Homo sapiens: one gene and its partners. The protein of the gene in region 2 interacts with the protein of the main gene of each other region in a biochemical or structural test. Each region holds a gene or a part of one and is shown on either strand. Other genes may lie near its edges.

Region 1 (7,037 bases), on a different chromosome or scaffold from region 2:
TGGTATTTTCTTTCCATAGTGTCAAAAGTTTGGACAGTATAACAAAGAAGACCCCACTTCTTTTAGGTTATCAGATTCCTTTTCTCTATATCCTCAGGTAAGTAATGTATGTTTCTAAAATAACTACAGAGCAATAAATTTTGATAGAAATTAACTTTATTCTTAGGGTAAAGTGAAGACTTTTTAATGTGTTGAGACTCAGTCTGTAGGTGACAGAGATTGTTCAACCCAAGTCGAATATGTGTCTAGGCAAGACAGCACCCTACGCCCTACAGAAGATAGAGATGACATGCAGAGGGGAGAAAACTCATGCATACATTTTCATGAACAGGCAAAATAGGATCATTGATATAAGGCCGTAAAAAATATCTCTCATGTGTAGAAGTTCTGGGGAAACAGCTACCTCAGCAACAAACCAAGAAAATGAGCACACATGGAGATGAAGATAACAAAACAAAACCACAGTTAGTACAACAAATATTTAATAATATGTCTGTGGTTATTATGTGCATCATAACCAGGAGTGAGCAATAAGCAGCTCCTGAAAGTAACTGCACTCTGCATGAACCAAGCCTTTGGAAGCCATTGGACAAGAGAGAGGAGCAGGAGAAGTAGATGAATTTCCGTCTCCATTGTAACTTAGGAAATAGAGCACAATTCATGGGTGTCTATAAGGATTACAGGAGCTGAGGCCAACTGAGTATTAAATATTTAGCACAATGCCAGTAACCTGTTCAGCACTAAATGTGACCTAGCTCCATAGCAGGTGCCTGGGACTCTGAGGTGTCCATGTGCCAGAGGTTAAAGCTGTGTGGTGTTGTGAGAAGAGCCCTGGACCGGCCAGAGTCAGGTTGAGGTTCCAGTGCTGGCTCCGCAGGGGCTGACCTTAGAGGAGGTTCCAAAGCCCCGTAGAGTTTGGTTTCCCACCTCTAGCAGTGGGGAGTTGGTCTGGTGAAGTGGTTTGCAGTTTTTTTTTTTTTTTTTTTTTTTTTTAAAGCCATGGAATCCTTTCTTTGAGAGGAGCTGCCCTTAAAAGCCAGCACATAAAGCAGACAGAGTTGGTGCTTCTCTGGTTGTGCCTGTGTACCACCCCCACACTGGGTCCCACCAGAGCCCTCATCCCTGGGCCCCTGAGGACTTGATGAAGACTCTAAGAGCACAGCTTGAAAACCAGATGAAATGCTTTCTCAGATTCCTTCTGTCAAGGCATTCTAGGAAAGAGGCCAACAGCCCAGTCTCTAGAGCCAGGCGGCCAGGTGTAGAGTCCAGCTGTGACACTCAGTAGTGGGGTGACCTTGGACAAGTTGCTCGCCCCTCTGTGCCTCAGTTTCCTCACCTGTAAACTAGGGATGGTAAGAGAACTTACCTCATGGGCTTATTGGAAGGATTAAATAGTTCTTGTCAAGTGCTTTGTGACTTGCATGTAGGATGTATTAGATGTCAGCCTTGATTATTATTTAGGAACCTATGATTGAATATTTGGAGTCTCAGGAAGCTTTACACTTCACAAGGCAGCTCATTTTCGTGTTCTGGCAACTCTTTAATGTGAGCTGAAAGTCTGCCCCCACCCCTTCTTCTCATCCTCGAGGGCGAGAACCTATGGTTGCAGTGTCATCCCTTGTCCCTTTCTCCCCTGCACCAACACTTCACCATCCCAGCTTGTGTCCTGAGCTGTCATCTGCTGTTCCTGTGCCTGGAATCCCCTTCCCCCTGGCCCTGTGGCCTCCTCAGCCACGTCTCTCAGGGTGCACTGTCAGTCCCCGGAGCTCTAGGAAGTCTCCTCCTGGCCCTCCACCCCCACTCCCCACTGCTATCCTGTACTCTGGCTCATAACTCGTAGCCCGAGTGTGCCTTTCTCACTGGGCCTGACTTCTGAGAGCAGATATTCTGTCTCCACTGCCTGGCACAGTGACTCTGGAAATAAACATTTCTTTGGCTTTCCTCTTAACTGTGGAAGCTTTGACATACCCAGAGGCCCTTTTCTTAAAAAAATTTTGTATTTTTTTAAAAATTTTTAATTTTTAATTTTTTTGAGACGGAGTTTTGCTCTTGTTGCCCAGGCTGGAGTGCAATGGCCTGATCTCAGCTCACCGCAACCTCCCCCTACTGGGTTCAAGTGATTTTCCTGCCTCAGCCTCCTGAGTAGCTGGGATTACAGGCGCCCACCACCACACCCGGGTAATTTTGGATTTTTAGTAGAGACGGGGTTTCTCCATGTTGGTCAGGCTGGTCTTGAACTCCCGACCTCAGGTGATCCGCCCGCCTCGGCCTCCCAAAGTGCTGGGATTACAGGCGTGAGCCACCACGCCTGGCCAAAGGCCCTTTAAAAAAAAAAATTAATTTTTAATGTGGTAAAACACACATAACAAAATTTACCATCTTAACCATTTTTAAGCATACCGTTGAGTAGTGTTACGTGTATTCCCATTATTGAGCAACTGATGTCTAGAATTTTTCACTTTGCAGAGCTGAAACTCTGTGCTCATTAAGCAACAACTCTCAGTTTTCCTCTTTCCCTAGCCCCTGGTGCCCCCTTATGCTTTCTGTTCTGTGAAACCAGAGAGCCCTTTTCTGGGTTCTCCTATTTCAGAGCCCTGAGGTAGATCTACTCTGTGGGTGTCTAAGAAGGTTACAATTATATGCATTTCTCTTTCCGTTCTTTGTGAATGCAGTTTATGTTCCATCTGAGAAGATCTCCATTTCTTCAAGTGTTTAACAACAGTCCTGATGAGTCGTCATATTACAGACATCATTTTGCCCGGCAGGACCTGACCCAGTCCCTCATCATGATCCAGCCCATTCTCTACTCTTACTCCTTTCATGGGCCACCAGAGGTGAGGCTCTACCCAAATGCTTTCCTGAGGATTGGAATCACCTAACATATATTCTTTTTTAAGCAAATTTACTTAGCAGAACTGTAAAAAAGAAGTAAAATTTGGAGTTTTTATAGTAATTTAACATTATTTCTATTAAAAAATACCTTTAGGAAAATGTCAAAGGACATATAAAGCTATTATTTGTGAAAGGCAGGAATAAATGTAAAAAACTCTAGGAAATAACTTGGATGCTTTCTTTTTCCTTGTGCTTGTATACTTACATCCAACAATTCCATGTCTTGTATCTGAAGGAAAGACTCCTAGATACAGAGTAGACTTTGTGCCAAAAAAAAAAATAGTAAAGGAACTACTATAATAGAGGATCAAATAACAATCCGAATGTTTAATATAGGAAAATAAATAAGTAACCTGAGAAATGCAGTTGACCCTCAGTATTCATGGAAGATTGGTTCCAGGACCTCCCTCAGATACCAGAATTCTTAGATACTCAAGTTACTAATATAAAATTACATAATATTTGCATGTAACCTTGGCACATCCTCCTATATACTTTAAATCATCTCTAGATTAGTTATAATACCTAATATAATGTAAGTACCATGTAAATAATTGTCATACTGTATGGTTTAGGGAATAATGACAAGAAAACAAGTCTGTACATGTACAGTACAGATGCATATTTTTTTCAAATATTTTCAGTCCAAGATTGGTTGAATTTATAGATGTGGAACCCACCGATACGGAGGGCCAACAGTATTCACAAAAAGTATGTAACATAATAAAATAGATAAGTCCTTATGTAAAAATGTTACATGAAAAAAAGTCAAAATAGAAACGTTTCTAAATATTCCCTGCAAAAATAAAGAACTATATGGAAAAAAACAAAATATCAATATTTGTTGTACTTGGGTACACATTTAAAAATTTTCTTTATCGAGTACCACTTACTTTTATTATTGAAATAATTACTAAAATAGCAGGGGGATCACATGACATCAGGAGTTTGAGACCAGCCTGGCCAATGTGGCGAAACCCCATCTCTACTAAACATACAAAAATTAGCTTGGAATGGCGCCAATAATCCCAGCTACTTGGGAGGCTGAGGCTGGAGAATCACTTGAACCCCGGAGGCGGAGGCTGCAGTGAGTTGAGATCGCGCCACTGCATTCCAGCCTGGGCAACAGAGCAAGACTCCCTCTCAAAAAATAAAAATAAAAAAGAAATAATTACATATATAAAAATTATATGTGTATATGTAAATATAATAAATTATATATGTATATATAAGAACTATGTATATAAATATATATGTATATGATTATATATGTATATATAAATATAAATTATATACTTATATAATATAAAATATTACTTACAAATAAATAATAAACGTATTTTTTTTTGAGATGGGGTGTCTGTCACCCAGGTTGGAGTACAGTTGTGCGATCTTGGCTCACTGCAACCTCCGCCTTCCAGGTTCAGGTGATCCTCCCACTTCAGCCTCCTGAATAGCTGGGACCACAGGCACGTGCCACTACAGCCCGGCTAATTTTTTGTGTTTTTGGTAGAGATGGGGTTTTGCCATGTTGCCCAGGCTGGCTTTGAACTCCTGGGTTCAAGTGATCTGCCTGCCTTGGCCTCCCAAAGTTCTAGGTTTACAGGCATGAGCCACTACGCCCAGCCATAATTTATATTTTGTAGTAAACTTTAAAAACTTGTATTAAATGCTGCTTTTCATATAGGTATCCGTATTCTGTCTCATCTACAGAGAATGTCTGTAGAGATTGCTAAAATACATACAAAACTGAGAATATTCAGAATTATTTTTCGTTCCAAGATCAAAAGATATCATTAAGCCTGGACAACATAGTGTGAGACCCTGTCTTTACAAAAAATAAAAAATTAGTTGGGCGTGGTGGCATGCACCTGTAGCCTCAGCTACTCAGGAGGCTGAGGTGGGAGGGTCACTTGAGCCCAGGAGGTCGAAGCTGCAGTGAGCCAGGGTCACATCACTTTACTCCAGGCTGGGTAACAGAGCAACACCCTGACTCTTAAAAAAAAAAAAGGTATCATTAATCTCCGTTCTCAATTGATGAGGAATTATTTGGAGCCTATTTTTCCTACAAAGTTGAGAATGAGTCAGAAGCAGAAAGTGGAAGTATGTCAGGAAGAAAAGGGGTGACTTACTGTGCTGGGCACCATTTGTAAATAGCCTTTGCTGTGGATACCAGGCATGGGATCAGGGTCGGGTGGAAGTGGTTGCTGTGTGGGGAGCAGGGAAGACCAATGCCATCTTTCTCTCTCTTTTTCTTCAGCCAGTACTCTTGGATAGCAGCAGCATTCTAGCTGACAGAATTTTGCTGATGGATACTTTCTTTCAAATTGTCATTTATCTTGGTGAGGTAAGATGATATTATTAATTAATTAATTTCTTTTTGTTTTTAAATTGGAGAAAAGGCATACACATTTAATGTGCACACAAGGAGAATTATTGTCCTTAACTATGGTTTTTGTTTTCTTCTCTTATTTATTAAGTTAGGTTTTTAATGACATTTGTAACCACAGTTTGGGCTTAGAAAGCACCATGGCTTTTATTCTAGTAAATCCCTGGAGTATTTGTATATTTATTAATTTTAATCATATTTGCTGTTAAGTATGGGCCAGGTGCAGTGGCTTATACCTGTAATCCCAGCACTTTGGGATGCTGAGGTGGGCAGATCACCTGAGGTCAGGAGTTCAAAACCAGCCTGACCAACATGGCAAAACCCCATCTCTACTAAAAATACAAAAGTTAGCCAGGCGTGGTGGCACACACCTGTAGTCCCATCTACTTGGGAGGCTGAGATGGGAGAATCACTTAAACCCGGGAGGTTGAGGTTGTAGTGAGCTGAGATCACACCACTGCATTCCAGCCTGGTCAACAGAGTGAAACTCCATCTCAAAAAATAAATAATAATAATAATAATATATGCTGTAAAAAAATCTCAGGTGGTTATTTTAAATCACTGTAAATTATTACCTTCGAAGTTAGGCAAAACTAGTTTTTTCTCCTCAGTAAATATTTTATACATACTGCTGTTCTTTCAGAGTTATATACATACTGCTGTTCTTTCAGAGTTAGTGTTTAGAGCTAAGGTTGTACTTTGATGAAATAACATGGCCCAGGGAACTTTACGCTGTGTCTGTGGATCCCTAGGATGGCTGTGGATAGCTTTCAGTCCATTTCTTTCTCAGTGGGGTTCATGCCCTGAGAAAGGGAATGGCTCCTCTGAATTATTTGCATCTTTATGGCAAAAAATCCTTTAATGAAGATGATGGTGATATTTATATTCAGTGATGCTTTTTCTTCTATTGTATGATCTCTACCTTCTTAAATTGGTTATTGATTTGGTTTCCTAATGGCCAACCATTAGAAATGATTTCTGATGTCGTGAAAAGATATAAATTGTGTTTCAGGATTCCTTCAGTAACTTAGGAAGTGTTAGTTTTCTAATACTCCTAAGTATTTTATAACTTTAAACTTTTTTCAGCATGTTAACACCCAGTCTGCTAGCCACTTGCACGCAAGTGCTAGGCTGTCAGTAATAGTCCTAGACTGAGAGCCGGATGACCAGCTGCTCTTCCCACTGGAACCTTTGGTATCAGTACAGTTGGCCCTCTGTATCCACGGGTTCCACCTCTGCAGATTCAATCAACTGCAGGTTAAAAATAATTTTGAAATAATAATAAAAAATAATACAAATAAAATATACAGCACAGGCCGGGTGTGGTAGTTCATGCCTGTAATCCCAGCACGTTGGGAGGCCGAGGTGGGCGGATCATCTGAGGTCAGGAGTTCAAGACCAGTCTGGCCAACATAGCGAAACCCTGTCTCTACTAAAAATACAAAAATTAGCTGGGCATGGTGGCAGACACCTGTAATCCCAGCTGCTCGGGAGGCTGAGGCAGGAGAATCGCTTGAACTCAGGAAGTGGAGGTTTCAGTGAGCTAAGATCGAGCCAGTGCACTCCAGCCTGGACGACAGAGTGAGACTCTGTCTCAAAAAACAAAACCAAAAAAACAGCACAAGAACGATTTATATAGTTTCTACATTGTATTAGATATTATAAGTAATCTAAAGATGATTTAAAGTGTATGGGAAGATGTACATCGGTTATATGAAATACTATGCCATTTTGTATGAGGGACTTGAGTATCTAT
Region 2 (3,568 bases):
TCTCAAACTCCCGATCTTAGGTGATCCACCCACCTCGGCCTCCCAAAGTGCTGGGATTACAGGCATGAGCCACTGTGCCCAGCCGAGGTCTTTTTTTTTTAATTAAACAAAATAATAAGAGTGAATCCAACCAGAAGTTATGGTTAAATAAATCCTGGTATATCCATGAAGTAGAATACTGCTTGGCCACTGAAAATGAATTAAATATTATACAAAAACACCTTGGGAGAATCTTCATGACAGAGTAGAAGAAAGAGTGTTAGCAAATACTAGGTATACTTAATATATCTGCAATATTTATAAGTATGTGTATTTGCCACAATTGTAACTGGGGTTATTTCTGGGCGATGTGATTACTGGTTATTTTTCTTTTCTCATGCATTTATGCATGCACACGCAATGAAGGCGTGTGTGTGTGAACCTCTATATTTTCCAAACTTTCTGTCATAATCATGCATTACTTTTGTAATTAGAAAATGCAACTTAACAAGAAATAAATGCGACACCAGTGAAAACACTTAAATAGAATTTATATAAATTTATTAATTTATTTTTAGTTGTAGGAAACATCAGAAAAAAAGTAAACTTGCCCAGCACTTCATAGCTGTATTTTGGGTTTTTATCAAATTCAGCTCCATTTGACATAAGCAATGATTATCTTCTCAAATACACCACCCACCAATTTCATAGCATCATTCTTTTTCCCCAAAGCAAGAAATCATATGCTGTTCTCAGTGCACTCCAAGCCATTCATTCATTTCACCTACACTCTAAAGGTACAAAGCTTCCCTTCTTTAAACACACAAGGTGGCACCTATGAAGCACGACAGAGATGAGGACTGACCATTATTGGTTAAGGATCAATTGCAACCATCTGCAGAAGCCAAAAGATAAGATTAAAACTGCCATTTGCAGTAGGGGCAGCCGTGGGACCACCTTTGAATCCCGCACTCCCAAACAGGCCATGTTTCAGAGTAAGAAAAGTAATCTAGAATGCCAGCCTGTCTGCACGTCCTCTGAAAAATGGCACATGTCATCCTGATCAAAGACACCAGAGGGGGCACGATACATATTCAAATATCTTTACTGACTAGCGAGTCTATTATTTTTATTTAAGAGAATTTTTTAAAGCACTCTGGGGCTGATTAATTTATGCAAAGTATTTCCTTAATAAGAATAAAATGAATTTAACACTGATTCTGTTTTCAAGTTTGGAAATGACTAGGGAATGGTTCAAAATTTTACCTTATTTCCCACCCACTTCTCAATGGGTCTTGGATTTGTGGGCTTTCTTAACTCGCCCTTTTTTCCCCAAGCATTTCCGGTAGCCATAAGCACAACATTTAAAGGTGATGAAGGCCACTGTCAGCACGACGGCCAAGAGGAAACCAATCACGTCCAAGGAATGGTACTGGTACCAGGTGAGGTCGTGGGCTGCGGGGCGCAGGTGTGGCGCGCCCTTGTGCCTCATCACAAACTCCACCCAGAACACGGCCAGGTCCAGCGGCTCCACCGGGCGGTCCTTGTGAAGGCTGGAGAGGCGCATGATGTTCTCCTTGTAACTAAACACAAAGACAGTTTCGTTATGCCTGGAACACCTGTGGTATGAACAATCCTCTCTTTATGCTCATGGCTGCTTAAGAAGACTACCAGATTTTCCAAACTTGGGAAAGGAAACCTGTTTCTATTATTGTTGTTGTTGTTGTTTTTAGATACAGAGTCTTGCCCTGTTGCCCGGGCTGGAGTGTAGTGGCACAAGCATGGCTAACTGCAGCCTCCAACTCCTGGGCTCAAGCCATCCTCCTGCCTCAGCCTCCAGAGTAGCTGGAATTAGTCATGCACCACTATGTCTGGCCAATTTTTAAATTTTTTGTAGAAACAAGGTCTTATTGTGTTGCCCAGGCTGTGTTACTATTATCACCTGAAAGGTTATAATTAAGAAACTTATTCTTAATAAATGTTATTGATCTCTTGAAAAAGAAGGAAGAGAAGGAGGGAAGGAAGCAAGGAAAGGAGGAAGGGAGGGAGGGAGGGAGGGAGAGAGGAAAGGAGAGAGGGACGGAGGAAGGAAGGGAGAAAAAGAAAGACCAAAATTATATTTTAGAAATATTTTAACCTTGCTTCCTACTCTTCTTCTTTTCTTTTTAGTGATATTTTGTGAGAAATTTCATTATATTTTCATACAGTAAAATAAAGAAAGGAAAATGTCACGTCAGAAATTATGAATAGTCTCCTATTTGAAGTTGTAAACAACCACCTCTGGCCAAATTAACAGCCATTTGTAAGTGCCAAATCCAAGGTGATGATATATTTGTAATTCAGTCATTGAAACATTAAACTATCTGGGTGCTAGATTTAGCATGAGGCAGGGTCTGTGCAGCCACTTAGTGCAAAATGGATTTCTGTTTATTCTGGACAGTGTTCATTGCCCAATCAGAACATCTCAATCCAAAACGGGTTAGGTGCTTCAACCCTTGGTGCTACAGGAATGAAGAGGAGATTGAAGAGGAGAGGGAAAAGGAGGAGGAAGTAGAAAAGAAAAGGGAGAAGAAAGAAAAAAAAAGGCACTCCTATTCAGGACTAATTATGATCGCTGTTGACTGATACAGTTTGGATATTTGTCCACACTCAGATCTCATGTTGAATTGTAATCCCCAGTGCTGGAGATGGGGCCTGGTGGGAGGTGTTTGGATCATGGGGTCGGATCCCTTGTGCTTTAGTGCTGTCTTCCTGATAGTGAGTTTTCATGAGTTATTGTGAGAGCCGGTCATTAAAAAGTGTGTGGCACCTTCCCCCCCAACTCTCTCTCGCTCCTGCTTTTGCCATGTGACATGCAAGCTCCCGCATTGCCTTCTGCCATGAGTAAAAGCTCCCTGAGGTTCCCCCGGCAGCCAAGTGATGTCAGCACTAAGCTTCCTGTACAGCCTGCAGAAACACGAGCCAATGAAACCTCTTTTCTTTATAAATTACCCAGTCTTGGGTATTTCTTTACAGCAATGCAAGAACAGCCTAATACACTGTCTTTAAACATATCTATAATGTTATTTGGAAACATTATTATAATGTAATATTAGTACTTGGCCATGAATCATGTTAAATATCATCTTCCTTTTACATAAACCTTAAGATGAATTTTCTTGGAACCTTCTTTTTTTTTTTTTTAAGTAAGACGGAGTCTCACTCTGTCGCCCAGGCTGGAGTGGAGTGGCACAATCTCAGCTCACTGCAACCTCCGCCTCTCAGGTTCAAGTGATTTTCCTGCCTCAGCCTCCCAAATAGCTGGGATTACAGGCATACACCACCATGCCTGGGTAATTTTTTTATATTTTTTTGGTAGAGATAAGGTTTCTTCATGTTGGTCAGGTTGGTTTCGAACTCCTAACCTCAAGTGATCCACCTGCCTCGGCCTCCCAAAGTGTTGGGACTACAGGCATGAGCCACCGTACCTGGCCAGAACTTTCATTCATTCATTCAATAGTAATTGAGCACCTATTATGGCCTGGTTGTCAGCATAAACTGATGTTTGAAAATTTTCCACTTCTTTTTATTTTGTGTAGGCACTATCCCC
Region 3 (7,037 bases), on a different chromosome or scaffold from region 2:
TTTCACTTTGTTGTCCAGGCTGGGGTGCAGTGGCACAATCTTGGCTCACTGCAACCTCCGCCTCCTGGGTTCCAGCAATTCTCGTGTCTCAGCCTCCTCAGTAGCTGGGATTACAGGTGACTGCCACCATGCCCAGCTGATTTTTTTTATTTTAGTAGAGATGGAGTTTCACCATCTTGCCCAGGCTGGTCCTGAACTCCTGAACTCAGGCAATCTGCCTGTCTCGGCCTCCCAACATGCTAATATTACAGGTGTGAGCCACTGCACCTGGCCTCTGTGCCAACTTTTATTTATTTTTTTATTTTTTTGAGACGGAGTCTCACCCTGTCGCCCAGGCTGAAGTGCAGTGGTCTGATCTCGGCTCGCTGCAAGCTCTGCCTCCCGGGTTCACGCCATTCTCCTGCCTCAGCCTCCCGAGTGGCTGGGACTACAGGCACCCACCACTACGACCAGCTAATTCTTTTGTATTTTTTTTAGTAGAGACGGGGTTTCACCGTGTTAGCCAGGATGGTCTAGATATCCTGACCTCATGATCCACCCGCCTCATCCTCCCAAAGTGCTGGGATTACAGGCATGAGCCACCGTGCCCAGCCTGTGCCAACTTTTTTAAAATTAAAAGCTCCTCTGGGGTTAAGGGCTCCAATTTGCCAGCCACAATCCGATAGACTTCAGATGAAAAGAAAAGAAGAATTAGCTAAAGTCTTTGACAGGGAAGAGCAGTTTTTACATATCAGATTTTTTTTTTTGAGACAGTGTTGCTCTGTTGCCCAGGCTGAAGTGCAGTGGCGTGATCTTGGCTCACTGCAGCCTCTGCCTCTCGGGTTCCAGCAATTCTCCTGCCTCAGCCTCTCAGGCAGCTGGGATTACAGGCGCTTCCCACCACGCCCGGCTTATTTTTGTGTTTTTTGTAGCCTGGCTTATTTTTGTGTTTTTTGTAGAGACGGGGTTTCGCCATGTTGGCCAAGCTGGTCTCGAACTCCTGACCTCAGGTGATCTGCCCACCTTGACCTCCCAAAGTGCTAGGATTACAGGCATGAGCCACCACGCCCAGCCTATATCAGATTTATTAATATTATTATTATTTCTTGTCACCCAGGCTGGAGTGCAGTGGTGCCATCACAGCTCACTGCAGCCTCAACCTCCCAGGCTCAAGCGATCCTCCCCGTTCAGCCTCCCAAGTAGCTGACTACAGGTACATGCCACCACACCCTGCTAATTATTTCTGTATACACACAAGATTAGATTCAAAAAGCACAGCTCAGGAAAGAGTGGGAGCCACTGGTACCACAGAACACTACCCAGCTGACATGAGACCAAATATTGGTTATAAAGAAAAAACTCAACACATGACTCGGGAAGAACTGACGGCAGGAAGAGACACCTACAATCTTCCTATCTGACACAGACCCAAAACATGTAAAGCACAGTCAACAAGAGTTTTGATATTACAGGAGAAAATGTCTCTAAACTCCTACAATCCATCTCTTAAATAGAGACAGGGTCTTGCTATGTTGCCCAGGCTGGACCTGAACTCCTGGGCTCAAGGAGTCCTGCCTCAGCCTTCCAAATAGCTAGGACTACAGGCATGCACCACCATGCCTGGCTACAATACTTGTACTATAATGGGGATCAGCCATTAACTCAAATTTTCCCTTTCTCTGAGATTCAGCTTCTTCATCAGAGAAATGAGAGGCTTGACCTAGATCAGTTAAGGTTAATGCCTTTTTTGAGTTACAGCAGACCCCTTTGATAAACCAATTACATCTATGGACCTTATTCCCAGCAAAATACATTCACAAATTTTTTTATGATTTCATGGCTAGGCATGCTGGTTCCTACCTGTAATACCAGCACTTTGGGAGGCCAATGTGGGGACAAATAGCTTGAGCTCAGGAGTTTGAGGCCAGCCTGGGCAACATGGCGAAACCCTGTCTCTACTAAAAATACAAAAAAATTAGCTGGGCATGGTGGTGCATGCCTGTAATCCCAGCTATTCAGGAGGCTGAGGCATGAGAATTGCTTAAACCCCGGAGATGGAGATTGCAGTGAGCCAAGATCATCGCACCACTGCACTCCAGCCTGGATGACAGAGCAAGACTCTGTCTCAAAAAATATATATATAAATAAAAATAATTTTTTTATGATTTCAAAGAGTTCACAGAGCCGAGTTTAGAATTAAATGAGATTCTCTCTGGAGATAATAAGATGGTGTGGAGGGGGCAGGAAAAAGAGGGGAAATGAGTGATACTTTTGTAAACCACCCCCTCTACTCTACCTGGCATCCAGTAATGCTGGATAAATTCAATAAATGTGTGTGTGGCCTTCATAAATTAATAAATATGATTGAGAAAACTAACAGCCAGCAGGGGGAATAAAGGTCAGCAACCACGCTCCCTCCAGCTTTCTTTTTTTTTTTCCCTTTTTTTTTTTAAGACTGAGTTTCATTCTTGTTGCCCAGGCTGGAGTGCAATGGTGCAATCTCAGCTCACTGCAACCTCCACCTCCCAGGTTCAAGCGATTCTCCTGCCTCAGCCTCTCAAATAGCTGGCATTACAGGCACCCACCACCACACCTGGCTAATTTTGTGTTTTTAGTAGACAGGGCTTTGCCATGTTGGTAAGGCTGGTCTCGAACTCCTGACCTCAGGTGATCCGCCTGCCTCAGCCTCCCAAAGTGCTGGGATTACACGCGTGAGCTACCATGCCCAGCCACCTCCAGCTTTCAATGGCTGAATTTGATGACTGTGAAATGGGCAGGACAAAGACAACCAAACCCTAAGCTTTTTAGGAATGCAAAGTCTCAGGACCTTTCTCAAAACTCAGAAAGCCTGTCTGTTGGAAAATTTTTTTTTTTTGAGACGGAGTCTCACTCTGTCGCCCAAGCTGGAGTGCAGTGGCTCACTGCAACCTCCGCCTCCCGGGTTCACGCCATTCTCCTGCCTCAGCCTCCTGAGTAGCTGGGATTACAGGCGCGTGACACCATGACCGGCTAATTTTTGTATTTTTGGTAGAGACGGGTTTCACCATGTTGGTCAGGCTGGTCTCAAACTCCTGACCTCGTGATCCGCCCGCCTCGGCCTCCCAAAGTGCTGGATTACAGGCGTGAGCCACCGCGCCCGGCCTTGCTGGAGGATTTTTTACCCAGGGGTCACATAGTCCCTAATTCTTCAACTATCATGGAAGTGAAAGAATCACAGAAATGAGGGACAAAGCAGTACTGCTGGGAAGAGAGATGAACTGAATAAGGAGAAATCAGACTATACTCCAGACCTGAGGCCTGAGAGCACCATTAGAACATTCTGCCTTCTCAGTTTGGTAATCCAGGAGCCCTCACTTAAATAACACTCAGCAAAGGAAAAAAATCAAAAGGGGCTAGATCCATTCCTGATGAGTCCTGGGTCACGATTTGTATCATGATTTATCCCTTTACTCCCCCCCACATCTCCCTGCTTTTGCTCCTGAAAACAAAAAGCTAGTCTCTGAGAGACTGAATTGACAGACTCTGTGTTATCTTTCAGTCTATTTATGCCCCCAAATCAACCCCGAGGCAGAATTGCTCTATTCTCCTCTGGTTTTAGTCTCCCTCTAAAACCACACAACAGAAAAGGAGTTGCAGAAAATTAGTTGACCGAGCTATCCAGGGCAATTGGCTATGGATGGGATATCTGCATTGAGAGTGAGAAAATAGGCCGGGCGCAGTGGCTCACACCTGTAATCCCAGCACTTTGGGAGGCCAAGGCATGTGGATCACAAGGTCAGGAGTTCGAGGCCAGCTTGGCCAACATGGCGAAACCCCGTCTCTACTAAAAATACAAAAATTAGCCAGGCATGGTGGTGGGGGCCTGTAATCCCAACTACTCGGGAGGCGGAGGAAGGAGAATCGCTTGAACCTGGAAGGCAAAGGTTGCGGTGAGCCAAGATCATGCCATTGCACTCTAGCCTGGGCAACAAGAGCAAGACTCTGTCTCAAAAAAAAAAAAAAAAAAAAAAAAGAGTGTGAAAATAAAAAGCCAAATAAAAAAGCAGGCTTCATCTGCAGCATATATAACTTAGATTACACAACAGGAAGGACTTCCTGAAGAGATGGGTGTGGTCAAACACCAGAAGAGGTGACACAGGCTAGGGAATGTAAGGCCAGGAGAGATCCCCCTAATAATCTGATGTAAGGAAACCTATTCTGCCCAAAAACAGGAGGGACAGAATGTGAGAGGGCCCTTGCCAGCACAAGCATCTTACAAGTGCATGGACTCATTCTCTGAATCCATCTTCATCAGCTGTCCCCTGGGCACTCTGCCTTTCCTCTTCCTAATTACTCCAGCACAAGTGGGTACATAGGTACTGATTCTTTATCCCTGCTCCATCTGATTTGCTCCTCTAGTTTCCCTTTCCACAACCTGTTTTCTTGTCAACATCCAGACTCTAATCAAGCCATGTCAATGGAGTAAAGTAAGAAACAGCAGCAAGTATCTAGATAAAAAAGACCCTAAACCTGCCACTAGGCTCCGTCAAATACCTGGATAATTGCACTCATCCTCTGCCTCCCAAGGCAGACCTGGCTTCTCAAGGGTCTGGTTTTCCTCACATGGAGGCCCCCTCCTCCTCTTCTGACCATGTGACAGCTCCCCTAGATCTTTGATATAATTTATACCTTGCCAGGGACCAACTCTTTCCCACCACTGTGAAGAAGAGGGAAAAAATATATATAAATACGTCGGAAATCTATAACAAGGTCTTCTTGGAGGGCAAGACATGGGGAGAGTTAGAAGCAGCGTCAATTGCTCTTTGGGGGTTTTAGTTCAAGCCGAGGTCTGCTTCCAGCAATCAACCATTAAAACAAGCTGGCCAGAGTAACAGCACAGTTTATTCTGATCATTTAATTTGAAGTGTCAATAAATTAAACTTCAATCAATTAAACTAGGTGTGCAATAACCCAGATGGACACCCCGACACCAACATAATCACAATAAAAATTTTTATTGCTGCCAGGGACCTCACCGGGGGCAGTGCTGGCACTGCTCGCGCCCTAGCTGAGAAATATATCTCCACAGCGCAGGAATGAGGAGATTGCTTCTCCTAACAAAATGGAGGGGGCCAGGCACCAGCAAGGACGCAGCTGGGAGAGGGGCACAGGGGACTGCCAGGAACGAGATGGGAGTGCTTTAGGGGCTTAATGTAATTGATACCTTTGCCCAGAGCAGGGGGAGGGGGGCATTTAGGCCAAGTACCTCTACTGTTAGGGCCAAAGGAATTTAACAAAAGCCCCATTAAGATGATTCAGGAAGCAAAGGCCAAGGAGCAACATCAACCTTTAAAGTCATTGACATATTCTGCATAGTTTCCTCCTCCATACATACTCATATCCTTGTGCACTTTGGATGGCCTGATTTTTTAATGAGGCTTAGAATTTAGGATTTGGTTATGGTTTTAAAATATTAAGGTAAGACAAAGTACAGAATTAGAAGTCTAGTCTGTAAAGCACTGGAGAAGCACTCTGAAAGTGAATCCAGAGAGGATTAGGAAAAATAAAACCTATGAACAAAGATTTAAAGATCTAAACCGATACAGAATTCAGTTTTGTTTGTTTTTTAAGACAGAGTTTCACTTTTTGCCCAGGCTGGAGTGCAATGGCCCTCGGCTCACTGCAACCTCCGCCTCCCAGGTTCAAGCGATTCTCCTGCCTCAGTCTCCCGTGTAGCTGGGGATTACAAGCGCATGCCACCACGCCCAGCTAATTTTTGTATTTTTAGCAGAGACGGGTTTCACCATGTTGGTCAGGCTGGTCTTGAACTCCTGACCTCAGGTGATCCACTCACCTCAGGATTACAGGTGTGAGCCACCGAGCCCGGCCCGAGTAATTCAGCTTTAAAGAAAAAAAGTAAAGCAGGAAGGAGGAAGGGGAAATCCTTATCTTTAAGATTCCACAGGTTATTAATGGAGAATGGTGATCTGCAGAGATCCTCTTCATTCACAACTCAAAAAGCGAGAACCAGCAGATACAGCAAGAGAGAAGAAGCCAAGTCCAAAGATGCAGGCTGAGATCACTATTATTAAGCATTGGGAACTAAAAGAGATGAAAGGGTCTCTTTCCTTAGAGCCTAAGGAGACCTGAGAGAGATTAGACAAATCTGCTTGAAAGCTAGAGCTGGATTACTTAATTCAAGAAAGAAATGTGACCATGTGACCCACTGTAAAGTACCTAAAAGAAGGGAACTTACTGTTATTTAGAAATTCCACAATCAATGCAAACTTTGATCAACAGTTCTTCTTGACCCCCTGTAGCTTACCTGTCCCTTTTTCTCGACATCCTGCAGCTATGTATGTACCTTGTAGAGTTAAGGACAGAAGAATATGCTTTGATCAGATTGTCCCTAACCGCATTACATAGGTTTCCCATAACAAAGAACCAGTGTGGTTTTAAAAGCAAAGTCCAGGGTTACCTGATCAAGTTAGCAGGGATCTGTGAATGCAGCCTATTAGGCATAGATTAAAGCAAAAGAATAAGGAAGAAGCAGGCTGAAACAGACTTCACTGAAGAAGCAGAGACAGAGAACTAAGGGAAGAGAAATGTGACAGAGAGACTTTCTTTTTCTTTAACTTTTCTGAGACAGAGCCTTGCTCTGTCACCCAGGCTGGAGTGCAGTGGCGCATCTCGGCTCACCGCGACCTCTGCCTCCCAGGTTCAAGTGATTCTCTTGCCTCAGCTTCCTGAGTAGCTGGGATTACAGGCGTGGCCACGCCCAGCTAAGTTTTGTATTTTTAGCAGAGACCGGGTTTCACCATGTTGGTCAGGCTGGTCTCCAACTCCTGACCTCGTGATCCGCCCACCTCGGCCTCCCAAAGTGCTGGATTTACAGGCGTGAGCCACCGTGCCCGGCCTTTTTTTTTTTTTTGAGATGGAGTCTAACACTGTCGCCTGGGCTGGAGTGCAGTGGCGCGATCTCGGCTCACTGCAACCTCTGCCTCCCTGGCTCAAGTGATTCTCCTGCCTCAGCCTCCTGAGTAGTTGGGACTATAGGCTCGTGCCACCACGCCCAGCTA

What was found. The genes of interacting proteins can lie anywhere in the genome.
Region 1: the proteins of UGT1A1 (region 2) and SEC23B interact in a test that uses a peptide from one of them, tested with the Homo sapiens proteins (one study listed by BioGRID).
Region 3: the proteins of UGT1A1 (region 2) and COPZ1 interact in a test that uses a peptide from one of them, tested with the Homo sapiens proteins (one study listed by BioGRID).

The regions. Positions count from the first base shown.
Region 1 is NC_000020.11:18,545,937-18,552,973, forward strand, and holds part of SEC23B (protein transport protein Sec23B), read left to right. Parts: intron 1-19; coding exon 20-97; intron 98-2,672; coding exon 2,673-2,834; intron 2,835-5,152; coding exon 5,153-5,239; intron 5,240-7,037. UniProt on the Homo sapiens protein: Component of the coat protein complex II (COPII) which promotes the formation of transport vesicles from the endoplasmic reticulum (ER).
Region 2 is NC_000002.12:233,770,256-233,773,823, reverse strand, and holds the end of UGT1A1 (UDP-glucuronosyltransferase 1A1 precursor), read right to left. Parts: intron 1,563-3,568; coding exon 1,265-1,562; 3' UTR 524-1,264; downstream 1-523. Other genes in the region: UGT1A3 (UDP-glucuronosyltransferase 1A3 precursor), read right to left, coding at 1,265-1,562; UGT1A4 (UDP-glucuronosyltransferase 1A4 precursor), read right to left, coding at 1,265-1,562; UGT1A5 (UDP-glucuronosyltransferase 1A5 precursor), read right to left, coding at 1,265-1,562; UGT1A6 (UDP-glucuronosyltransferase 1A6 isoform 1 precursor), read right to left, coding at 1,265-1,562; UGT1A7 (UDP-glucuronosyltransferase 1A7 precursor), read right to left, coding at 1,265-1,562; UGT1A9 (UDP-glucuronosyltransferase 1A9 precursor), read right to left, coding at 1,265-1,562; UGT1A10 (UDP-glucuronosyltransferase 1A10 precursor), read right to left, coding at 1,265-1,562; UGT1A8 (UDP-glucuronosyltransferase 1A8 precursor), read right to left, coding at 1,265-1,562.
Region 3 is NC_000012.12:54,328,128-54,335,164, reverse strand, and holds part of COPZ1 (coatomer subunit zeta-1), read right to left. Parts: intron 1-7,037. UniProt on the Homo sapiens protein: The coatomer is a cytosolic protein complex that binds to dilysine motifs and reversibly associates with Golgi non-clathrin-coated vesicles, which further mediate biosynthetic protein transport from the ER, via the Golgi up to the trans Golgi network.